Homo sapiens: one gene and its partners. The protein of the gene in region 1 purifies or fractionates together with the protein of each later gene. This does not show direct contact. Each region holds a gene or a part of one and is shown in the gene's direction. Other genes may lie near its edges. The genes, in order: BTBD8, KIRREL1, AP3S1, COBLL1 and ZC3H14.

Region 1 (5,365 bases):
GTTAGGTTGTTTCCATATCTTAGCTATTGTGAATAATGGGGCAACAAACATGAAAGTGCAGATATCTCTATGAGGTGCTAATTTCATTTCCTTTGGGTATATACCTGAAGAGGGTTTGCTGGGTCATGTCATAGTCCTATTTTTAATTTTTTGAGGAACCTCCATACTGTTTTCCATAATGGCTGCACCAATTTACATTCCTACGAAAAGTATATGTAAATTGACTAAATTTGCCAGTCAAAATATAAATACTGCCTGGGTTATAATACACCATTATTATGGTGTAACACACCATATATTATAGTGTGATATATGACATTGTGTGACCTTGGCCAAGTTTACCTATCCTTTGTATGCCTCAGCTTCCTCATCTGTAAATAGGTCTGAAGACAGTACCTAGCTAAATGGTTGTTGTAAGGATTAACTGAGTTAAAACACACAGAGCAAATAGAGTAGCGTTTATCACATAATAAGGATTCAAATATAAGCTACTATTATGTTATCTTTGACACCCCTCGTTTCTACAGGAATAATTAAGAATCAATTATCCATCCAAGCATTTGGGAATTAATTTTAAAAAATCAATTATCCAGTTATATTTTTCAGAATTAAGATGTCTGAATATTTGAGAGGGGGCATTATCTGAAGAAATGGTTACCTCTTGGCCAATCTTATGGTACAAATACAAAGTCCATATATTCCCCTCCCCGCCTCCTTTTTTTTTTTTTTTGTTTGGTAGAGACAGGGTCTCCTTATGTTGCCCAGGCTGGTCTCTAATTCCTGGGCTCAAGTGATCCTCCCGCCTTGGCTTCCCAAAGTGCTGGGATTACAGGTGTGAGCCACCGCAACCTGGCCAATGTATTTTCCAAGCAATTACTATTCTTCACCTTGTGTGTAGAGTTTGTGAATGAAACAGATTTTTTTTTTTTTTTTTTTTTTTGAGACAGGGTCTTGCTGTGCTGTTCAGGCTGGAGTGCAGTGGTGCAATCATGGCTCACTGCAGCCTCGACCTCCCGGGCTCAAGCCATCATTCCGCCTCGCTTCCCAAGTAGATGGGACTTGCCCGGCCCGAAGCGGAACTACTGAGTTTCCTTATTTTGGAGGCAGTAATCAAATAAAAAATACCAAAACCTTAAATGATAATCAGTTTGCTACTTTATTTGGGACAAAAGAGAATTCTATATTTCATCCATCCATCACTTCACTGCTCAAAGACTTTGCCCCTTACCTATTTCTCCCTTCTTGGTCATAAATGTTAGGGCTTTATATGCAAAGCCCTGTGCTTTCTCCGATCAAGTCCAAAAGCTTGTATGAGCCACTCCTTGGATAAGAAGGGGATGGGGCCTTCTAGATGCTGTAAGTATCTCTTATATTGAACTCAGAATTGTTCTGACTGGCAGTTTATGAAGTTCTTCCCCTACTCCTCCCATCGCCAATTTTTCTTGCCCCAAACATTTATACCTCAGGGTTAAGAAGCCAGGTAAGTGAGGGGGTGTGACTCGCCCAGTCTTTCGTTGGAAAAAAGTGTAGACCTGTCAGGAAGACACAGCATAGAAAGGCTGCATGTGCTGATTTGAACTCGAGCCTCAGTAAAACATTGAAATGAATGAACACCAACCGGAAGGGAAAGAAGAGGGGAGGGGATAAGGAGCCTGAGGATTGGTTTGCCCCGCGGGATGGTCCGCGCCTGAGCCATGGGAGGCGGGGTGCCCGCCGGCAGAAGTAAACAGAGCGAGTACGCCTGCGCACGCTCTTCCTGGGTCAAGAGCCGGCTCGGTTCTGGGATTCTGAGGCTCCCCACCGCGGTCCGGCTTCTCTGGGAGACTGTCTACAAACCGACGAGAGGCGTCAACCTTTTACCCTAGGGGGCGGATTTGGGTAGGAGCCGAGCGTTCGGTCGGAAACGCCCCCTTCTTCCTCCTGGGCGGGGCAAGTGAGGCCAAGTACTGGGCCTCCAGGGCGTCGTACCTCTGTGAGACATGGCTCGCTGTGGGGAAGGCAGTGCGGCCCCCATGGTACTTCTGGGGTCCGCTGGAGTTTGCAGTAAGGGGTTGCAAAGGAAGGGGCCGTGTGAGCGGCGCCGGCTGAAGGCGACGGTGTCGGAGCAGCTCAGCCAGGATTTGCTCAGGTAGGAGGAGGCGGGAACTCTGGCTGCTTCAGTTCCTAAATCGCCCACCTCCGCCCCGAAGCTGAGGCTTCTTTCGGCTCTGCCTCCCCCTCCCTCAGCACTTGGTTCTCCTCGCCTCAGGCGACTGCGGGTCGTTAGCCAGTCTCCCCACTATTCCGAAAAGTGGCTTCGCTCGCCCTGAATAAACAATCCCGAGCACCTCGACACCATGTACCAGATTCAAAAGGAAAACAAAAAAAGCTTAGTCGTGTGCAGCACTAGTTTGCTAGAAATATCTCAACACAGGCACGCTTAGTTGTTTCCAATCACTAAGGTCGGGTGGATCCAGGTCCTGAAACTTACACAATTTTTAAAATAAGCTTATACTATTTTAAGAAAAATAATAAAATTAGGAAAACGATTATTTGAAATGAGGAAAGAACAATACTATAGTCTTGGAGGTCTCTTCTGAGGTCTCTTTAAACAATTTACCAGAAATGCTTCCTGATTGCGACCTGGATTCCTCTCTCCACCTAGAGCTCTCTGTAGCTCCCAGCAACTCTCAGCTCCTGTGAGGACCAAAGCAAATGGAGGGTCTTCCTGACATTTAACCTTTGTAAGCCTCATGGATATCCTTCTCGGGTTATTGGGAATCCAGCTAAAGTAATTTCAGCTTACAAAGAAATTGAAGCTTAGAAATATGACCTAGCTAATTTACATTTCCAGCAAGACATTGATTCTTAAACTTGGGTGGGCATCACTGAAATTTTCCATTTCTAACAAGGCCCCAAGTGATGCTAATGCTGCTGGCTAGGGTGACTATGAGAACCACTGAGGTAAACATAATTACTAATAATTAAAAGTTGTGCAGCATTCTACTTTTTTTTTTTTGGAGACGGAGTCTCGCTCTGTCGCCCAGGCTGGAGCGCCGTGGCGCGATCTCGGCTCACTGCAACCTCCACCTCCCGGGTTCAAGCCATTCTCCTGCCTCAACCTCCCGAGTAGCTGGGATTACAGGCACGCGCCACCACGCCCGGCTAATTTTTGTATTTTTAGTAGAGACGGGATTTCATCATGTTGGCCAGGCTAGTCACGAACTCGTGACCACAAGTGATCCGCCCGCCTCGGCCTCCCAAAATGCTGGGATTACAGGCGTGAGCCACTGCGCCCAGCCAGGATTCTACATTTTGAAGTGCTTTCTGTCAAAAACTCACCCATACTTAAGGCTCCGATAGCTATAAACAGAATTTATCAAAGTAAAAAAAAAATCCCTTTAATTTGGGACTATCTACTGGGGAAGCTACTTTGTCTCTACCAGGGAGGGACTGATGAAAAAGATGGAAAAAATAATACTAAAGTTGTTAACGTTTCTAGGGTAACACATCTAATTTATATGAAGAAAATGAGGTTAAAGTATTGCTAGTGAACAATTTATCCTTATCTTAGTTACAACTGAGGGTAGGACTCAGAACTCTCAAATTCTTATTATAAACAAAGAAAAATAGATGTAGCAAGGTTTTTTTTTAAAACAAAACAAAACAAAATGCTCACCCAACCACCTTAAATGCTATACTAAATTAATTTTCTCCAAGCATAGCAATGTCATTTATTTATTCTACAAATACTAATGAAGTATCTAGCACTGACCACGTACCTAGCCCGGTACTAGGTCTTAAGTAATAAACGTTAATAAAACATTGCTTTGTTGTTTGTCCTTACACTCTAGTGAGAGAGGAAATGGCTAAATAAAAGTGATAGTTGTGGTGGGGTGAGTTGGGAAGACTTTATAGGGTGACATTTGAGTGAGCTCTTAGGGATTGGTTAAGAATTGATTAGGTAAAGATTGGGAAGGGAGAGGTAGAGGATATCTAAACAAGGGGAATAACTTTTATGGAAGCACAGAAATTTGAAAGAGCTTGATTGATTTTGAGAAAGCAAGTCGTATTAGACTCTGCCAAATAGTAAGGAACAGAGACACTCCTAGGTTACCTGACGTGACAAGATATGTAGAGAAGTGAGGAAAAGTGGGAGACAGTTTTAGCTGTCAAAAAGCCAGCTCCAATGTAGAACTGGAAAGTTGTTTGGGATATGGTAACAGTCATACAATAAGACCACATTGACAAATGGACTGTTATTCAGGGCAGTGGTAAAAAAAAAACACTAATACTTATTGCCATCCTACTATTTGCTATACACTGGGCTTACATGAAATGTTTTACTTACTTCTCTCATGAATCCTGTGAGGTAAGTCTTGTTATTCTCATTTAACACAAGAGGAAACTGAATGTTAAAAAAGAAATGATGGTGGCACCTATAGTCCCAGCTACTTGGGAGGCTGAGGCAGGAGAATTGTTTGAACCGGGGAGGTGGAGATTGCAGTGAGCTGAGATCAAGCCACTGCCCTCCAGTCTGGGCGTCAGAACAAGACTCTGTCTCAAAAAAAAAAAAAAAAAGTGGTGGAGTCAGAATAAGAACCTTGGCAATCTGGCTCCAGAGACTTTCAAATGACTTGCCCAGGGTCACATAACCAGAATATGAACCCAAGCAGTCTGCCTCCTCTACAGTAAACTGATCTTCCAGTTAACTTTGTACCTTCATCTCCTCTTCTCTCCTTACCCATTTCTTTTTCTACCATAGATTTGCTTAAGAATGCTCTTCAGTGCCATCAGTTGGTTCATGTTTATTATAGAACATCTTTGCTCAAGTTCTCCTGCTTGATTACTGCATTGGCCAGTGGCTAACCTTGGTTTAGCCCATTGTCCATTCAGATGTGATTAGGATGTAGGGGCATGTGGTACAAACCAGGGCCACATATAAGTAATAAATAAATTTGGTAGCTTTATTCGGAAGGAGATTGCATGGCAGGCAATCAAAGTGACAGTAGGTAAGGGTGAATGGGTAGACTAAGACTGGATCACAGGGGCTTTCTTTCTCCAGTGAAATGTTTGTGATGTATCTAGAAGGAGTGGAGAACCATCGGTGTTTTTAAAATAGGGAATTAACACATTTTGAATCTGGAATTTAAGGAAAGGAAAATTGGAAACAAGGAGACCAGCTGGGAGATTTTATAGTCCAGGGATACATAATGGCAGTGGAAATGGAACAATTGATAGGCTTGGTGACTGATGACATGCTGGGGAACAGGGAAAAGGAAGCATTGAAAATGGCCCCAAATCTTAGGACATTTGAAAGGGAAACATGTAGGCTACTACCATACCACCCTGAACAAGCCTGATCTTGCCTGAAAGGGAGGTGTAT
Region 2 (4,257 bases), about 66 Mb from region 1:
AAGGTCTGTCAAGAAATTCAGGTTCTTGTACAGACAAATTCATGCAAATTTCTATTATTTTCACAAAAACCAGAAACCATGGGGGAATCCAAAGACTTGAAGTCTAAAGATGGTGGCTTTTAAAACATGCATATTCCAAAAAGAATTCATTTTTGTTTTGGGTTTGGCTAGATTCTCTTATTTATCCCCTTTTAGCTTAAGTATTAGTTTCATTCTACTGAAATGATGGAGAGAGGGCCTAAGGTTACTAGGTAATTGAGCTGATGGTGCAGGGAGAATTGTTGAGAAAGGAAGCCTAGTTTCCAGAAGCCTGACACAGAGCTACTTCACTGTCCTCTACTCCTTAACAAGGTAACTGGAGCCTCTTGGGTGTCAAACAAGCACCCTGGAAGGCACAGGGAAGCATCAGCAACCAAGGTAGTCTCTGCCCTCTGTAACTTACGTGTTGGTGCATCAGAATCTGAATTGGAACCTACCTGATGGGCCCAGTGGAATAGCTTTTCTGGGGAGTGGAAGGCGTCCTTGATCACAGAGCTTTGCTGTCGAATCCTGGAGTCCTGCAACATGGTGATGCCTCAGTAGTTGGTGATCCTGATCACCTTTGGTGGCTTGTTTTAGTGGAAAGAGCAAGGGACTAAAGGTCAGGAGACCCAGGACCCAGTCCTGAAGCTGCAAAGGTTAGATCTCGGCCTAACTTTCTGTTCATTGCCCCCAATTTGTCTGGCCTGTAAAATGAAGGGGGAGGGTTGCATAAACCTAAAACTATTCTGGTTTTGTTATACCCATAGGGTTGGGGGTAGGGATGGGACTGCCCATTGCTGGCAAGGAACTGGGAACAGTAGCAAGCATGGTGAGGGCTGGAGAGCTGGCTGGGGGGGTTCTCTCCTGTTCAAAGAAGCTTTCACCATGGGCTTCATTATCTTGTCAGAAGTGAATTAGTTTCCACCAGGGACCCCTTTATCCCAAACAGCAACACAAAATACACCCTAAACCTCAGAGTAAAATTGATGTGGGGCTATCCTTTGGCTATCGGGTCATCTGTGCTGCTCCCCACTCATTTCTGATGGGTTTGCAAAGGTGCCTTTTGCCAGGGCAGGACATAGTATGCACATAGGGATATTGTTATGTGCCTAGGTTTCAGGCACTCCTTCTGTAGGGGAAAATGGGAGGAGCCTTCCTCCACCCTGATCCTTAGGAACATTCCTCTGGCCCAGGGACAGCTTGTTCTTCTCACCAAACAGGTGAAGCCTGCAGTCCAAGGTGCCTGGAGCCAGAGGTCGGGGAGTAAGCACAGCTGCCCCTGCCTGAGAAGGAGCAGCTTGCAAGGGGAGCCGGTGGAGGGAAAGGGGTACAACAGCTTTGGAATACATTCTGGATCTTGAGGAGGATCTTGTGATTTTGGCTGAGCCACGGTCACTTCCCTCGTGAAGGACCCGCCCTATATCCTAAATTCTGGATCCCTCAAAGTCCAGCCACAGAGTTTGCATGAAGCAAAAAGCCTAGTAAGTGAGAAAGGAAAGGGGCCAGGGATGGGAGCAGTGCTGTGCTGTTATCACTGTCTTGCTTGGAATGAAAACATCTGAGCACCCTGTCTTCAAGCGGTACGCTCTCCCCTTATTCCAGCAGGGCTACTTTCCTCTTCACTCTGATGAGGGGAGCTTTATCTGCTTTCAAAATGGAGCACGTCGCACTGGAGTTTCGTGCCCTCTCGTTAACCTGTCAGGAGCCACAGGGCTCCATAAAACGGAATCAGTGTCTCAATATACATGACCTATGTTCATAGCAATGTTCAGCCATTTGGGTTTGAAGAAAACCACATTAAAGCCAAGACCCGTTTGGAGCGAACTGCCTTGTTCTTTGCTGTGTGGAAGGTTCTGTCCCTACTGCTGAACTCCAGTTCCTCCCCAAGCACCCTGGCCTCAGAAATCCTGGCTTCCCCAAGTTAGTGCTGTCTGACCTGAGCCAGGCCACTGCTTGGTGCCTCTACAGGCCACTGTGCATGTTGAGAATTGCCCAAAAGGATTAGTGAAGCTCCTGACCCTGGCGAGGCCATAATGAACACTGAAGTGCACAGGCCAAGGGATGTAATTGAAAGGCATTTATTTTTGTGAAGATGCTGTAAAATTAGCATTTAAATATCCCATTCCCTTCTCTTGGCCTCCTCCTATCCCCCTATGGTATTTCTCCTCCTCTCCTCAAGGCCAGGCTTTTTGTGAAAGGCATTGGCTCATCTTTGTCAGCGTGGTCCTGACGTTCACCTCTGGGCTGCTGGAGAGGACTGAGAGATGTGTGGTTTGGTAGGAAGGGGGTGTGTGTGGGGGTTAGTGGGGAATCCCATTTTTTTGCATCACTGTGAGGTAGCTTCAGGCCCTGTCCCTGGAGAAATAATTGCTGCGCAGAAGTCACAGGCCATACTGGGCAGTTCTGGTACAAACCTGCCCTTATTAATAATAACAATAATAATAATAACTCCATTTGCATAGAACTGTCACTCATTCCTGCCAGTCTGCTGTCCCTACCCTGGTTTTTTGCTGGCCCCAACCACTGGCCTTGTTGAGTATCGATGGGCCCTGAGCTCTTCTGTTTGCTTTTGGAGCTCTTCAGATGCTGTCCCCCCTGAGAATACCCTAACTCTGGGGAAAGAGCAGCCAAAATCCCAATACAGTAAAACTCCACACAATCTTGTTAGCAACAGTGACCCAGAAAATTTTGAGAAGTCCAATTTCACCAGAAGAGGCCCAGGGCTCCCTGTGGTCACATTTTCTACCCAGCCATTCTTGGCATTGCAACCTCCATTTCTAGCTCCTGTTGAATTTTCTCCACCCAGACCCCAAAAATAAATGGATCCATGATGATAATTAAGAGAAGAGAAAAAAAGATATTATTTTTGTTAGGACAAACCATTGTAGGTTTTTAGCAATGTGTATCTGTGTGTCCCTCACACCTTTTCCTATTCTACTTTTTTTTCCTTTTTTTAAAAATATTATGTACTATATTTTTAGTCTCAAACACACTATATATTATATATATTTAATTTTTTTATATATATAAATATAAATGTTTTAAAAAGTACCATGTTTTGTGTTATTTAATGCATTAACGGCTAGTTACTTAAAAGCCTGCCTGGCTTTGGGTGTTAGTCCTGGTTTGGGGAAAAAACAGGTTTGGATTGAAATTGCAGAAGCAATGTTTGTGCCACCTCCAGGCCGTGGGGCAAAAACGTATTCTCTAGTTTGCCACTTGTGCAGAACCCTGAGGCCAATTATGGCAGTTCAGGGACAAACAGCTGGAGGCTTCTGCTATTGGAAAACAGCATCCAAATGTTCTGTGCCAAATCGCATTATGGGAATGGGAAAAGGGGAGACTTTTGAATCTGAGATCTAGATCCCAAAGGAATTGGGACAAGTGTGTAAGAATGGCTGGTTTTGTTTATTTAAAACGCTGTGGTTTGGGTAAAAAGCAAAGTTACAAGGTCTCCAACCTTTTGAACTTGTAGTGAAGCAGAATGAAAAAACAGATGGTGCAGCAGTGCACACACACAGAGGCCATCCTGCTGAGAAATCCTAAATTCTCTGAGTTGAGTTCCCAAGGGTTTCAGTTTGCTCATTTCTCAGGAGTGTTTGCAGATACCTGAAATAGTTTTCAGATAATGTTTTGTTTTATTTTGTTTTGGACTTTTATTTTGTTTTGTTGTAGAGGCTATGTTGCCCAGGCTGGTCTTGAACTCCTGAGTTCAAGTAATCCACCCACGTCGGCCTCTGGAGTCGCTGGGATTACAGGTGTGATCCACTGTGCTTGGCCCAGATAATGTTTTTTAAAGCTATAAATCATTAGAGAAATAGGGTTTATTGTTTTCTTCATCCAGTTAACAACGAAGCAAACTCAAGACAGTTTACCGTAGCCTTTTTTGTACACAAGGGACACCCAACATAGTCAGAGAGGAAGACAGGATGTAAGAGCTGAAAAAATACTTTCGAAATAATGCAACCCATTTCCAAGAGGGCTAGAAGTCACGGCACAGGAGCTGCAGCTGAGGAAGGGTGCAAGGTGCCATGGGGCCTGGGGTTTGGAGGCATGTAGCCAGGACCAAGAACCTATAGGTAGCCCAAGGTGAATCCAATCCAGATGGGAATGAGAGGCCGACGTACAGGTATATTTGGAGGCTGCATTGAGGTAAGTTGCACTGGCATAGGTAAAAATGGCATTGATAGAATACAAAAGCAAACAGAAAAGAGTAGGGAAAAAAGACCAGGAGAG
Region 3 (4,698 bases), on another chromosome or scaffold:
TTGTTCAAGGGTCAACTGTCTATGTAATTGCCAATGTGCAATTGTTTTTGATCTTCAAAAACTGGTTTCATATGGTTTAGATTAGTATCTAGGAGAGAAAGTGCTGGTTAATAAAACTGTTTCCCCAAGTGATTATATGTTTACCCTCCCACTGGTGAGATGAGAGTTTCTTTGGCTCTACATCGTTGTCAACATTTTTTACTATCATATTTTTATACTTTTGCTGATATGGTACATGTGGAGCTATCTCATTGTTTTAATTTGTATTTCACTTAATTACTACTGCGATTTAGTATCTTTTCATTTCTTTGTGGACCATTCACATCCTTTCCTGTGAAATTGGTGTTCATGATTTTGGTCAGTCTTCTATTGCAGTGTTTAGGAAGCTTACTCTTGTTTTGTTTTGTTTGAGATAGAATCTCACTCTGTCGCCAGGCTGGAGTGCAGTGGCGCGATCTCAGCTCACTGTAATCTCTGCCTCCTGGGTTCAAGCGATTCTCCTGCTTCAGCCTCCCGAGTAGCTGGGATTACAGGCACGTGCCACCACACCCAGCTATTTTTGTATTTTTAGTAGAGACGGGGTTTCACTGTGTTGGCCAGGATGGTCTCGATCTCCTGACCTTGTGATCCACCCATCTCGGCCTCTCAGAGTGCTGGGATTACAGGCATGAGCCACTGTGCCCGGCCAGGACGCTGACTCTTACTGGAATATGAATTGCTTGGTCCAGGTTAATAAATGTTTATTGACCCAATCCTTGGCTTTAGATCGGCTTATATAAAGATGAGTAAGATGGATGGACTCTTACCTCAGTCTATATTTAGTAAAGGTTAAACTTAATTGGAAGCTCCATAGTTCTATTTCTTTCCTCCATTCAAATATAGATTAGCTACACTATTTATATCTTTACCTTTCTGATTCAGTTTACTCATTTGTAAGATAATCAGCTTTGACTAGTTAATATCTAGTTTCCCTTTTACCAGTGTATGTAATTCATCTAATATTTTTTCTTGTTGGTTTTTGAAACTTAGAAATGTGTTACTTTTATTATAGTGGTAAATATAAATAATTGGGTTTTTTTTCTTTTTCATCAAAAAATACTGGGTTTTGCTTCTGTAAGGTATAATTTAAGTCACTTCTCCAAGGACCCCTCTCTTAGATGGATTTCCCAGACAGATATTGCTACCTTTGATTTTAAAAATTCTTAAAATGCTATTAAACCTATACACTCCATCCTAATATATATGAATTATTCTTCCTCAGAGTGAAGATACACAACAGCAAATCATCAGGGAGACTTTCCATTTGGTATCTAAGAGAGATGAAAATGTTTGTAATTTCCTAGAAGGAGGATTGTAAGTAAAGCATTTCATAGACATTTCTAAGTTTTGACTATGTGATTAAAATATATACTGTTTAATCAGTTTATGGTAAAAGTTTTCTACTTTTGATTAATTGGATTAGGTGAATTAATTGCCACCTATGTTAGCTATAAATCTAACTTAAAGAATTATTTTTAAAAGATATGCAATCTTTTTTCCTCTTAAAAATTTTGGAAGGGAATTTTATATAAAGGTAATATATTAAATCGTAAAAATTCCAACATTACAGGGAAGTATAAAATGTAAAATAAGAATCTCTCAACCTTAGTCCTTCTACCCAATTTCTTGTGTATCCTTCTAGAAAATAGTTTGTATTGACTAACATATAAAGTATGTTATATGTGTTGACTAACCTACAACCTTAAAATTTTTATTTATGAGATCACACTTTGTATGCTCATTTGCATGTTGCTGGTTCTCAGTATTTTCAAAAGCTTTGCATAGAAACACATCTAGGACAAGCTTATTCTTTTTAATGACTACAGAGTATTCCTTTTTGTGAATGTTCATAAAAATTAGATTACATTCTTTATTTTACTGTTACAAGACTGAAGTCTGTTTTTCAAATATACCTAATTCAGCTAATCAATTTTTCTATTTTTAAAATGAATAAGAATATTGCCAAATATTACAAACAAATACTTTTAAACTAATAACTTCCATGAAAATGGTTTGTTCTCAAACATAAATCAGTCAGAGAAACTTAGAATTTTCTGTATTTTACTGTGTATGATGGATGAGAAATACTCTGGATAACAGGGAATCCATGGTCATAAGGTACTTTTTATCATGTGGAACACTTAACTTGGGTTTCCTGAAAGATTATATCATGCTGTCCTTAAATGTCCAATACATACTTACAAATTTTGCTGTTAACTCAAGGCTTCTAATTTAATAATTGAGACAAGTGTACCTGCTTCTGTTTTTGAATTTTACTTGTACTTATTTAATTTTAGTTGTCTTTGACATTACTATCACTTCCTCTCATCCTAGCCTCTTGATTTCTTATCTCCTAGGAAACTTACCACCCAGCACAGTGCACTGCATGTAAGAACTTGATTAATCTTACTAGGGTGCTATTTGAATTAGAAATTGTGGCTGGAAATTGTGATTGTTCTTTTTTAACCTTACAAAAAATAGAAAGCAAATATTGCAGCAGAGATGAGGCCTCACATCTAGTTTAATCCTAGTTTTGTCACTAACTAGCTGATTTCCTTGGACAGGTTACTTAAATTCTCAGGCCTCAGTTTTCTCCTCTATAAAATGAGTTATTTGGACTAACAGGATTTCTCAGTCCTGTGGTTTTATATGATGTATTACATTCTGTACAGGAATTTTTGTCAGTATTATACTATAGCTTAAAGATAAGATTATATTTTTAAAGGCAAAATATGTACTTGCCGCATTAATATTTTGCTTGCTTTTAATAGCATTACTGGCCTTTTTGAAACTTATATTCTTCAGAAGTTTGCTGTCCTTTTAAAGTAAAGCAAAAGTTTTAAGATAATCACTAAATCGCTGATTCAGAATGGAGTAAAGCCTCCTATTTGTGTTCTTTTTGCCTCTTTCAGGGAACAATTGCAGTCATAGTCTGTAAATATACTCTCAGAATCTTTAAATTGCATGTAGATATTTTTAAATTAAACATCTTCTCTAGAAGAGTATCTAGCATAGTAGGAAATTTTTATTCTTGTCAAAGATCATTTCTCCTTTTGCTATTAGAAGACATAGAAGTAGTATATACCTTGGGAAGTTGTTTCTACAGAACTTATAAGTTTAGTATTATTTTTACTGTGTAAGAAATAGATGCTGGCCAGGCGCAGTGGCTCACGCCTGTAATCCTAGCATTTTGGGAGGCCTAGGCGTGCAGATCTCCTGAGCTCAGGAGTTCGAGACCAGCCTGGGCAACATGGTGAAACCCCATCTCTACTAAAAGTACAAAAATCAGCCAGGTGTGGTGGTGTGCGCCTGTAATTGCAGCTACTTTGGTGGCTGAGGCAGGAGAATTGCTTGAAGCCAGGAGGCAGAGGCTGCAGTGAGCTGAGATAGCACCATTGCACTCCAGCCTGGGTGACAGAGTGAAACTCTGTCTCAAAAAGAAAGAGAGAGAGAGAGACAGAGAAAGAGAGGATGAAGGGAGGGAGGGAGGGAAGGAAGGAAGGAAGGGAGGGAGGGAGGGAGGGAGGGAGGGAGGGAGAGATGCCATTTTCCCATATTCTGTTGGGATGGATGTTAGTTTAATTTTGGTTACATATAGCCTTGATTGTAAATTATGTAAGTGTTTAGGGGTCTTTTAAGAAGGTGAATTCATTATTGTAAACTTAACTATGAAATAGCTAAACTATATTTAGAAAAATATGTTTGGAATGATTCCTAAATTATTATTTCTAAAATACTAAAATTCCAGTCATTATAAATAAAAGTATTTCATGAAAGAGTTTAGTATCTTAGCTCAGTTTTCTTGCATTTATGTCAAAACAATGTAATTTTGGAAGAGATCTTGACGGTAAATCTATCCAAAACTTAAGAAGTGTCATTCTTCTTTTTTTTCTGGTTGATAATCAGTCTTAAGCTGTGTAACTTACTGTGACGTATGGAGTTAAATCTAGTAAGCACTTACAAATGCCCCATGATCTAATTTCCGCCTACTTCTCTGACTTTATCATTTACTAATCTTTTCTTATCTACTGGCCTTTTTTCTCTTCCCTGAACATACATACTTTGTTCTTGATGAAATGTCCTTTTAGTACTTACTACCTTAGCCTGAAATGCTCTTCTCTAAATTTTTTCCAAGCCAACTCCTTATCATTAGATCTCAGCTTAAATGCCACTCTTGCTTAATATTCAGCCTGAAGTAGGGAACCCATCAATATATCATCATTGTATTTTGATTGTCAGTGTAACACTTGCCACTATCTGATGATGTTCTGATGTGTGTGTTTGTTGCTTCTTCCCCACTACCAGTGCTTGGCACATAGTAGTTACTCAGAGAATAGTTTAATGAATGAATGAACTGAAATTAAGCACTGGCTTCTTTTACTTGATGTTTCTGAAGAAAACAGCCACCTTAATTCACCTAGTCTCTGAATAAGTTCACTTAAATACTTTGCCATTGAATGTCACCTTTCATTTGACAAGTGGTTTTTAAACAAATTGTCAGTTTGCTTGAGCTAATGAAAATGATTCGCATTTTGTTTCCAATAACATTACAATTTTTTTGTCATTTAGATTAATTGGAGGATCTGACAACAAACTGATTTATAGACATTATGCAACGTTATATTTTGTCTTCTGTGTGGATTCTTCAGAAAGTGAACT
Region 4 (4,698 bases), on another chromosome or scaffold:
TCAGCTTGCTGAGTAGCTGGGACTACAGGCGCCCGCCACCACACCTGGCTAATTTTTTTGTATTTTTAGTAGAGACGGGGTTTCACTATGTTGGCCAGGATGGTCTCGATCTCCTGACCTTGTGATCCGCCCTCCTCAGCCTCCCAAAGTGCTGGGATTACAGGCGTGAGCCACCACGCCCAGCCTAGAGTTTTCAAATTATATAAATACGTTCTTAACACATAGATACAATATGCTATCGTAGACACATTATTTCTATTTCACATCATAATAAAGCATCATTTGCCAAAATATGTACATTTGAATATTCACTTAAACCTAAATTTTAAAATATTTTTTATTGAGTAATCTATTTTTATTAATGATAAAAATACCATTAAAATTTCTCATGTTTATTTCTCAAAGAGCACAAATAGCACACTTTTCTGTCTGTATACTTAGAGATAAAATTTTAAAAATATATTTTAAGTACTTTAAATATTGAATTATGTTAAAAATTTAAATTAAATTTTCTGAATGTGCTGATTACTATAATTGGATGCTACACCACCTCCCCACCCCGCCCCCCCCTCCCACCACATCCCCAGCCTTGGGATAAAATTAAATTTCATTCAGATACTGTGGTGTATATGGAAATGTTTAATTATATTTAGCAAAAATCCAGAACCTCACTCTGGCTTACATTTACTTCCATGGCTAATCTTGACAATAAGCATGAACATTAACTGCTCAGGATGCCTCCTTCTCTTTTACCCTGCTGGCTACTGGTTGTTGGTGATAAAATACATTTTTTTTATACAGTGAAATGTTAACCACAGCTATTGAAAATATTTATGTGTAAACATATATATTAATATGGATGATATTTAAGATATTGTAAGTGGAAAAAAAGCTAGGTGGCTACAGTATGCTTCCATTTATATTAAATAAACTAACAAAAGGAAACGTGAGTATGGTTATCAGCCTATGTATGTATATTACACTTTCTCAGGACATACAGGAAAAACTGTTAAAGCAAGTTGCCTCTGAGAATCAAACTGGTTAGGAATAAAACTTAATTTTCATTGTCCAATACTTGCTCTATTTGTATTTTCACAAATTAAGCATCTAGGTCAGTGGCTTTTAACTGAGGTTGCATAGTAGAATCATCTAAGTAGTCTTAAAAATCCCTTGCCCCACCCTTCAGAGATTCTGATTTTGTGGAGTAGGGTGTGAGCCTCAATATTTTTAAAGGGGGCTCAGGTAATTCTCAAGTATAGTTGGTACTAATAACTATTGAGTCAAATTTTATGAGTGCCCTTGTAGACAATACAAAAATCTCATGTGCTTTTCATTTTCACTTTTAAAATTATTAATTTGCCTTTAATTTGCACTATTGAGTTGCTGGATGAGTGTAAAAACCATTCAATTGTAAGACATTTCTTAAATGAAATATTTAACTTAAAGTTTATGAGATTAAATAACCTCTTGTCTCTACCATGAATAAAACCTAGAGTGATAGCAAATTGTTTTGGGAATTATGAGTCTGAGATAATCTGGTTTTATGTTAACGTGACTGCTCACCAGGAGAAAGAACTTCACTATTATTTTTGAGGCAGAATTTAAAAGAGTCCAGCTAATTATTATTTTTCAAAATTCCTTCCTTGCCAGAATTGCATGTGATGAATGAGGCAAATTAATATTTAGGATTATATCTGCATTTCTTTGTAGCTGGAATAAGCTCTGATTATAGCCTTGAAGAGATAGATGAAAAGGAAGAACTGAGTGAAGTGCCTAAAGTTGAAGCTGAAAATATTTCTCCGAAGTCACAAGATATTCCTTTTGTATCTACTGATATAATAAATACACTGAAAAATGATCCTGACTCAGCCCTTGGCAATGGTAGTGGAGAGTTCTCACAAAACTCCATGGAAGAAAAACAAGAAACTAAAAGCACAGATGGACAGTAAGTAGTCTCTGTGCTGGAGTGTTGGTGGCCGTTAGTTTAATTAATACTAGTCTTCTGAAATATAGATCTGATATTTTAAACATAAATATAGTCAGCCCTTTGGTTTTGACTTTATCCTTTTTACCATTATATAAGAATGTTTATTAATGAAGTACTTATTTGCATGTAATTACATTCAAAGAAAATCAAATGTGACAGTTCTAATATCCCTGTGTCAGATAAACCATGAGAAATAGTTTGTGTGATTCAAAAATGAAAATTTTTCTTTTTGTGGGTGTTTTGCCTGTTAACCTATGTGACCTATATGTAATATTTAATTTTCAATTTTTACCAAGTATTCCTGGTGGATTTTCACTGGTATATGAAAACAATTATGCATATTAGAATATGATGTTAAATCACGAGTATTATCTTTGCAGTCAACTTTATGAAACAGAGAATGTACTTTCTGCTTTATTCTAGAAACAGACAGCTATAGTCTAGTCCACTTAGGTTTGAAATGCAACAACATGGATAAAGATGAAATCAACCAAGCAAAATAAACCATATATGTCAGACGTTTATTATAATTTGCATGAGATTGTCTCCTTATTAAACTATTCTACCACCAAAGGGAAAAAAAGATCAGTGAGGTCAATCTACATTCTTATTTATATAGTTGACCTTGCCAGATGAAAAACTAAAATGTTTCATTTAATTTCCTTTTTCTTTAAAAGGCAAATAAATGATAATAGCAAAATAAAGCCACTATTTTGGAAAAGTGTCTATTTTACCAAGCTTCTTTCTTTTTAATGGGACCACCACATGAAAGCTAATGTTTCATAGCAGCATTTCTTCTCAGTTATATTTTTTCTCTGCTATTAAATTTCCGATGTTTGGCAGAAATAAATGATTATTTTAGTCCATCTGTCTTTGGAAATTATTGCCTGTTTCTCATTGTGTGTGTGTGTGTCTGTGTGTGTGTGTATGTGTGTGTTTCAATAGTATCAACATATAACATACAATGTCGTATCTTCCAGAGAACCACACAGTGTAGTATATGATACAAGCAATGGAAAGAAGGTAGTTGACAGTATAAGAAACTTGAAGTCGTTGGGCCCAAACCAAGAGAATGGTGAGTTATATAAATTAATAGCCAACACTTTCTTACTTTTATTATGTGCCAAGGACAGTTCTTAACACTTTATATGTATTAACTCATTTAATCTCCTGTAACTCACTTAATACCTACCTCATTTATGGATATTATGGGTACTATTATTTTTAGTTCCATTTTACAGATGATTGTGCCACAGAGATATTAAATAACTCACCTGAGGTCTCACAACTACTACGGTAAGTGGTGAACCTAGGATTTAAACTGGGGCAATATTGCTCTAGAGTGTGCCCTTAACTACCATGTGTACTACTTTTGTTGTTAAAACATAGAAATTATCTAATTTAGACTTTGGATCTTAAAAATGTTTCTTCTGTGTATCTATTTGCGATCTGTTTCTCTTTTTTTCCATCTAACTTCCTTGGATGAAACTTTTCTGCCTGATTTTTCAAGGCCCAAATCATCTAATAATATAACCTTATTTACCACTGTTTCCCAGTTCCCATCCTCATATTAGCACAACTTATTTTTTCTCATGATGTCATTTGCTTATTTCTATATCATAAGGCATATATTCATGTTGTCTTTGTCTGAAAGACAATTTTTCATCTATTTTACCCATTCAATTTTTATCCAAATCATATCATTTCATGTTTTTACTTGATTATTAGAAGCTTTGCGGTTCTATATTTATGATTCCTCAACTGAATTAGGCAGTCTTGGATCAGATAAATTACATGTGATACTTTGCACTACTCATGGCACCTAACAGAATCCTGAGATACTCATAAAATATGTACTTAGTATTGAATTTCAGAAAAACAATCCTATGCAAATAGAAAATTCAAAAAATACTCAATGGTGTTTTAAGGGGTTAAGAAGGAAGTGGCTTATGAATTCTCATAGTCCAATCTATTATGTTAATCTAGAAAACTAGGTTAAGATATTTAGAAAACTTAGGATGTAGTATTCATATTTGAATAAGACATAGATAATCGCAATGTCATACTTATATATATAATTATATATATATATAATTGTATGTGTGTGGTATGTGTTCATTAACTTGATTATGTGTGCTACTGATTCATTTTCTCCCACATTCAATACCATTGTGAGATATCATACTGAGAAGGTCTAAAAGCAAATAATTTTTTCATTCTTTTCCACTTGAGTCAGTTTTTCACAGCATGTACTGTGATGGCAATAGCATTCCTATTGAGAAATTATGATTTAAAAGCTGCTTCTTTCTCTTTAAAACAATAGTCAAGTTGTATCATTTTTGTTAAGACTTTTGTTGTCAAGTTAGTGCCAGAGTCACAAGTACATTTACGTAGTACTTTGATTTGCATATGGTTTGTTTTGCTACGACTTTTGTCAACTCTAGTTGTTTTTTAAAGTAAATAATGTCTATTATTCTTAAAGTAGTTTTATTCTGTTTTCCTTTTTACCTACCCTTATCTAAATCACCTTCTTGTAAGTTTGTCAATGTCAGTGTCACTTTTGAGTAGAGGGTCACTATAGTATAAAAGATACCTTCTCCCTCTACTGGCCATTCTTGGAAAATGATCTAGCCATTTATAAACACTTGGTTAACATCATTGTCAGTTGTATATGAGGATGGATTCTGGGTTTCCAGGACTGCCAATCACTG
Region 5 (4,698 bases), on another chromosome or scaffold:
TGAAAATCTGACCCTATCAACAGGAAGAAAAACTTAAAAAATAGTAAAAGCTGCAGTAGGCAGTCCCGATTTATTGACTCTGTATGTTTTGTCTAAAGAGAAGACTCCAGTGTTTTCACTACTCTTGATTTTCAATTTGGTACCTTAATTTTTTGGTCTATTAGGATCTGGTTTCATTTAAATGTAGGTGTCCATATGAGGCTTTATGGGGTATACATGTAGCAGCAGTGACACCATAAATAATATGTTAGTAAAAATTCTTGCCAGTGCTGTGGCCATTGTGCTGACAGCCATGATGAGTGGTGAGCCTCCTTTCCCATTGCTTTGACTGGGGACTCAGTGTTTCCCTGCTGCTCAAGGATGAAGCTTTGTAAGATTAGCATAGGGGTGTGGCTGGAGAGACTCCTGCAGAACAGTTCTCAGGAGTCTCTAGTCTCTGCACCACTTCCCCTGTGAGCAGGGAGTTTGAAACTGCAATTGCTTCTGGTTGGTTTTATGTTGGGTTGTTTCAAGGATGCTACCAACAACAACATCTGTTTTAACCTGCTGTCTTTTCACTCACTGTCATATGGCAGCACAGATTTTATAGCTTGCTTTCTTTGTTTTTTTTTTTTTTGAGATAGAGTCTCTCTGTCCCCCAGGCTGGAGTGCAATGGAGCCATCTCAGCTCACTGCAACTTCTGCCTTCCAGGTTGAAAGCCATTCTTCTGCCTCAGTCTCCCAAGTAGCTGGGATTACAGGCATGCACCATCACACCTGGCTAATTTTGTAGTTTAAGTAGAGACGGGGTTTTACCATGTTGGTCAGGCTAATCTCCAACTCCTGACCTCAAGTGATCCACCAACCTCGGCCTCCCAAAGTTCTGGGATTACAGGTGTGAGCCACCGTGCCTGGCCTATAGCTTTCAATAAAAGGTGAATTTGCCTCTTAAAATTTGAACAGAAAGTTTTAATAGTTTACAAAGTCGGTGTCAGCCAGTGAAGACTAGGGGCATGACCTTCGTATGACTTAATGTTTTTAAAAGAAAGATAAAGTTTCTTTGTAAGGTATTATTGTAATAATCACATTTCTTTGTAAAGTATTATATTGTTCCTGAGTATCTAGCTACTTTGCTTTCCAGCTAGGCTTCTCTTGGGTATTCTCTTAATCTTTTATTTGTACTGGGTTCTTGTGTATATATTATAGTCTGCTGTGTGTAATTTATTATAGGAAAAGGGTAAGACACATTTACTTTGCGGGGATGACACAAAAAACCTGTAAAAATTAGAGAAACTTCCAGTCATCTCACATTTTCTTTGGAACCGATTATTCTTGTATCTTAGAACTAAAATGACTTATACTGTTTTGTTTTTAGAAAGGGTATCCCTCCTGTTGCCCAGGCTGGAGTGCATTGGCACAGTCATGGCTCACTGCAGCCTCCACCTCCCAGGCTCAAGTGATTCTCCCACCTCAGCCTCCTGAGTAGTTGGTTACTACAGGTGCACACCACCATGCCTGGCTAATTTTTTGTATTTTTTGTAGAGATGGGGTTTCACCATGTTGCCCAGGCTGGTCTGAAACTCCTGAGCTCAAGTGATCTGCCCGCCTCGGCCTCCCAAAGTGCTGGGGTTACAGGCATGAGCCACCACATCCTATTTAAAGCTTAAATAGGACTTTTACTATTTTTAAAGTAGCATAGAAAACTGTTTGTATCAGGCATAGTCATAATTGCTCTTTGATGCTGCTCCTATCTGGGCTGCATGACTACATTTGTGTGCCTTGTTCTCCTGTAGTGAGGACAGAATGTGGGTCACTGGAACAGTAAGTACTCATAGAACTAGCTGCTGCTGCTATTACGACTGGTTGCCTGTTTTGCATTTTTTCCGTTTAATCATCAGACTCTAAGGAAGACATTATTTTCTCTTTGTATAGATGAGGAAACAGAATTCCAAAAAGTTAGCTAACATTTGCACAGAGTGTCTGGCTGAGCAACTAAGTGGCAGAGTCAGATTTTAACTGACCTCTGGCAAGAGGACTAGAGGAATACAGTTGAAGTGATACTTGCTTTCATGAACATGAATGTGAACCATAATACATAATACCCATGATGCTATTTTGTGGGGAGTTTAAGGTGTCTCAGTCCAGAAATTAGCAGCTGATTATTGCCTGTAGCTGTAATTTTACTTATTCAGTGTTATTTAATAAATTGCCAGCATTACAATTTCGATGAAGGCAGATTTTTGGCTTACTGAAACAGGATAAAAATCTGGCAACAGGGGTCCCACTTTGCCCTGTCATAGTAATCGAAGCTGTGATTGGATGTGGCACAGGGAGTGGAGTGGATGGGTGTGCACTTGCTTTCCAGGCTGCTGCTCCCCGTCTGTCCCTTATTGCATTTATCATCTTCAGCCCAGTCAGTCTTGCTGTTAGGGGAACTGCCCAGTCTCTGTAAGTGATGGCATTTGTGACCCCATTGTAGGTAAAAATGTTTTCCCCTTTTTAGACATTGCTGGCTGAGCGCGGTGGCTCATGCCTATAATCCCAGCACTTTGGGAGGCCGAGGTGGGTGGATCGCTTAAGTCCTGGAGTTCAAGACCAGCCTGGGCAACGTGGGGAAACCCTGTAGCCAGGCGTGGTGGCACGTGCTACTTGGTAGGGGCTGAGGTGGGAGTATCACTTGAGCCTGGGAGGCAGAGGTTGCAGTGAGCCGAGATTACACCACTGGCACACCACTGTACTCCATCCTGGGTGACAGAGCAGGACCCTGTCGTAAAAAAAAAAAAAAAAAAAAAAAGTAAAAGACATTGCTGAGTTTCGCACCTGGACTTACAGCTCAGCAGGTGGGAATCCTTTTGTATTTGGGCCACTCATCATCTTGCTGGCGTGTGAGGATTCACATCTCCTTATCACCTTACCTGTTTTCAGTTTTTATTTAATTTTATTAGTTCCCCACTTGACGTCCTTCTCTATTTTTAATTCAGCTATGAATTAGTATTGAGAATTAGAATTTTTGGTGAAAAATTTGGCCGTAGTTGCAGAGTCACTGTCCTCTTTCCTTTTCACAGTGAGAACTGTTGTCTTCTTCCTGGCAACCTTTTATAGGATTCTATGGCCAGTGTTAATCCCATAATTTGAGCTCACTTATTTTATATGACTGTACATTTAACAGAAGATTCTAAGACAGGTTTGAGGGAAATATGTTAAAGGTGCTGTGTACTGAATTGATCATAATGAATGAAATACTTTTATTTCCTTTCCCTTTGTAGCTGAGATGAGTGAACTGAGTGTGGCACAGAAACCAGAAAAACTTTTGGAGCGCTGCAAGTACTGGCCTGCTTGTAAAAATGGGGATGAGTGTGCCTACCATCACCCCATCTCACCCTGCAAGTGAGTACCATCCCCCCATCTCACCCTGCAAGTGAGTACCATCCCCCCATCTCACCCTGCAAGTACCATCCCCCATCTCACCTGGCAAGTACCATCCCATCTCACCCAGCAAGTACCATCCCCCACATCTCAACCCTCAAGTGAGTACCATCCCATCTCACCCTGCAAGTACCATCCCATTTCACCCTGCAAGTACCATCCCCCATCTCACCCTGCAAGTACCATCTCCCCATCTCACCCTGTAACTACCATCCCATCTCACCCTGCAAGTGAGTACCATCCCTGCATTTCACCCTGCAAGTACCATCTCATCTCACCCTGCAAGTACCACCCCCTCATCTCACCCTGCAAGTATCATCCCCCATCTAGCCCTGTAAGTGCGAGTACCATCCCCCATCTTACCCTGCAAGTACCATCACCCACTTCACCCTGCAAGTACCATCCCCCACCTCAGCCTGCAAGTACCATCCCCCACCTCAGCCTGCAAGTACCATCCCCTATCTCACCCTGCAAGTACCATCCCCATCTCACCCTGCAAGTATCATCCCCCACCTCACCCTGCAAGTACCATCCCCCATCTCACCCTGCAATTGAGTACCATCCCCCATCTCACCCTGCAAGTACCATCCCCCATCTCACCCTGCAAGTGAGTACCATCCCCCATCTCACCTTGCAAGTACCATCCCCCATCTCACCCTGCAAGTACCATCCCCCATCTCACCCTGCAAGTATCATCTCACCCTGCAAGTGAGTACCATCCCCCCATCTCATCCTGCAAGTACCATCCCCCATCTCACCCTGCAAGTACCATCCCCCATCTCACCCTGCAAGTACCATCCCCCATCTTACCCTGCAAGTGAATACCATCCCCATCTCACCCTGCAAGTGAATACCATCCCCATCTCACCCTGCAAGTGAATACCATCCCCCATCTCACCCTGCAAGTGAATACCATCCCCATCTCATCCTGCAAGTGAATACCATCCCCATCTCACCCTGCAAGTCATAGCCAGCTGATTTTGGCTTTCAGTTTAGTGTCTGTATCTTACACCTTATTTTGTTTTTGTTTTTCTGTGGACAAGTTTTTAGTTTTATAACTAAATGGAGTGACAATTACCATGGCCCTCTCCAGAGTAGCGTATTTCTTGTTCATGTATGTTTGTTGAGAGGCAAGGGTGGGGGGGCTTTGTTTGTGCCTCGGACCTGTGAGATACTGAAATACCTGGGGTTCCTTAAGAATTCTGTACGTTTAAGCAGATGGGTATATGGTAACTGCCCCAGTTTGTATGCATTTTGGCCACACGCAGTATACACAGATTTTGAGGAGTTGAG

The links.
Region 2: the proteins of BTBD8 (region 1) and KIRREL1 purify together in Homo sapiens (affinity purification with mass spectrometry; one large-scale study listed by BioGRID and IntAct). This does not show direct contact.
Region 3: the proteins of BTBD8 (region 1) and AP3S1 purify together in Homo sapiens (affinity purification with mass spectrometry; one large-scale study listed by BioGRID and IntAct). This does not show direct contact.
Region 4: the proteins of BTBD8 (region 1) and COBLL1 purify together in Homo sapiens (affinity purification with mass spectrometry; one large-scale study listed by BioGRID and IntAct). This does not show direct contact.
Region 5: the proteins of BTBD8 (region 1) and ZC3H14 purify together in Homo sapiens (affinity purification with mass spectrometry; one large-scale study listed by BioGRID and IntAct). This does not show direct contact.

The regions. Positions count from the first base shown.
Region 1 is NC_000001.11:92,078,593-92,083,957, forward strand, and holds the start of BTBD8 (BTB/POZ domain-containing protein 8), read left to right. Parts: upstream 1-1,752; 5' UTR 1,753-1,979; coding exon 1,980-2,128; intron 2,129-5,365. UniProt on the Homo sapiens protein: Involved in clathrin-mediated endocytosis at the synapse. Plays a role in neuronal development and in synaptic vesicle recycling in mature neurons, a process required for normal synaptic transmission.
Region 2 is NC_000001.11:158,097,191-158,101,447, forward strand, and holds the end of KIRREL1 (kin of IRRE-like protein 1 isoform 1 precursor), read left to right. Parts: 3' UTR 1-3,072; downstream 3,073-4,257. UniProt on the Homo sapiens protein: Required for proper function of the glomerular filtration barrier. It is involved in the maintenance of a stable podocyte architecture with interdigitating foot processes connected by specialized cell-cell junctions, known as the slit diaphragm.
Region 3 is NC_000005.10:115,865,409-115,870,106, forward strand, and holds part of AP3S1 (AP-3 complex subunit sigma-1), read left to right. Parts: intron 1-1,261; coding exon 1,262-1,353; intron 1,354-4,608; coding exon 4,609-4,698. UniProt on the Homo sapiens protein: Part of the AP-3 complex, an adaptor-related complex which is not clathrin-associated. The complex is associated with the Golgi region as well as more peripheral structures.
Region 4 is NC_000002.12:164,697,769-164,702,466, reverse strand, and holds part of COBLL1 (cordon-bleu protein-like 1), read left to right. Parts: intron 1-1,710; coding exon 1,711-1,945; intron 1,946-2,967; coding exon 2,968-3,062; intron 3,063-4,698.
Region 5 is NC_000014.9:88,603,998-88,608,695, forward strand, and holds part of ZC3H14 (zinc finger CCCH domain-containing protein 14), read left to right. Parts: intron 1-3,245; coding exon 3,246-3,366; intron 3,367-4,698. UniProt on the Homo sapiens protein: RNA-binding protein involved in the biogenesis of circular RNAs (circRNAs), which are produced by back-splicing circularization of pre-mRNAs.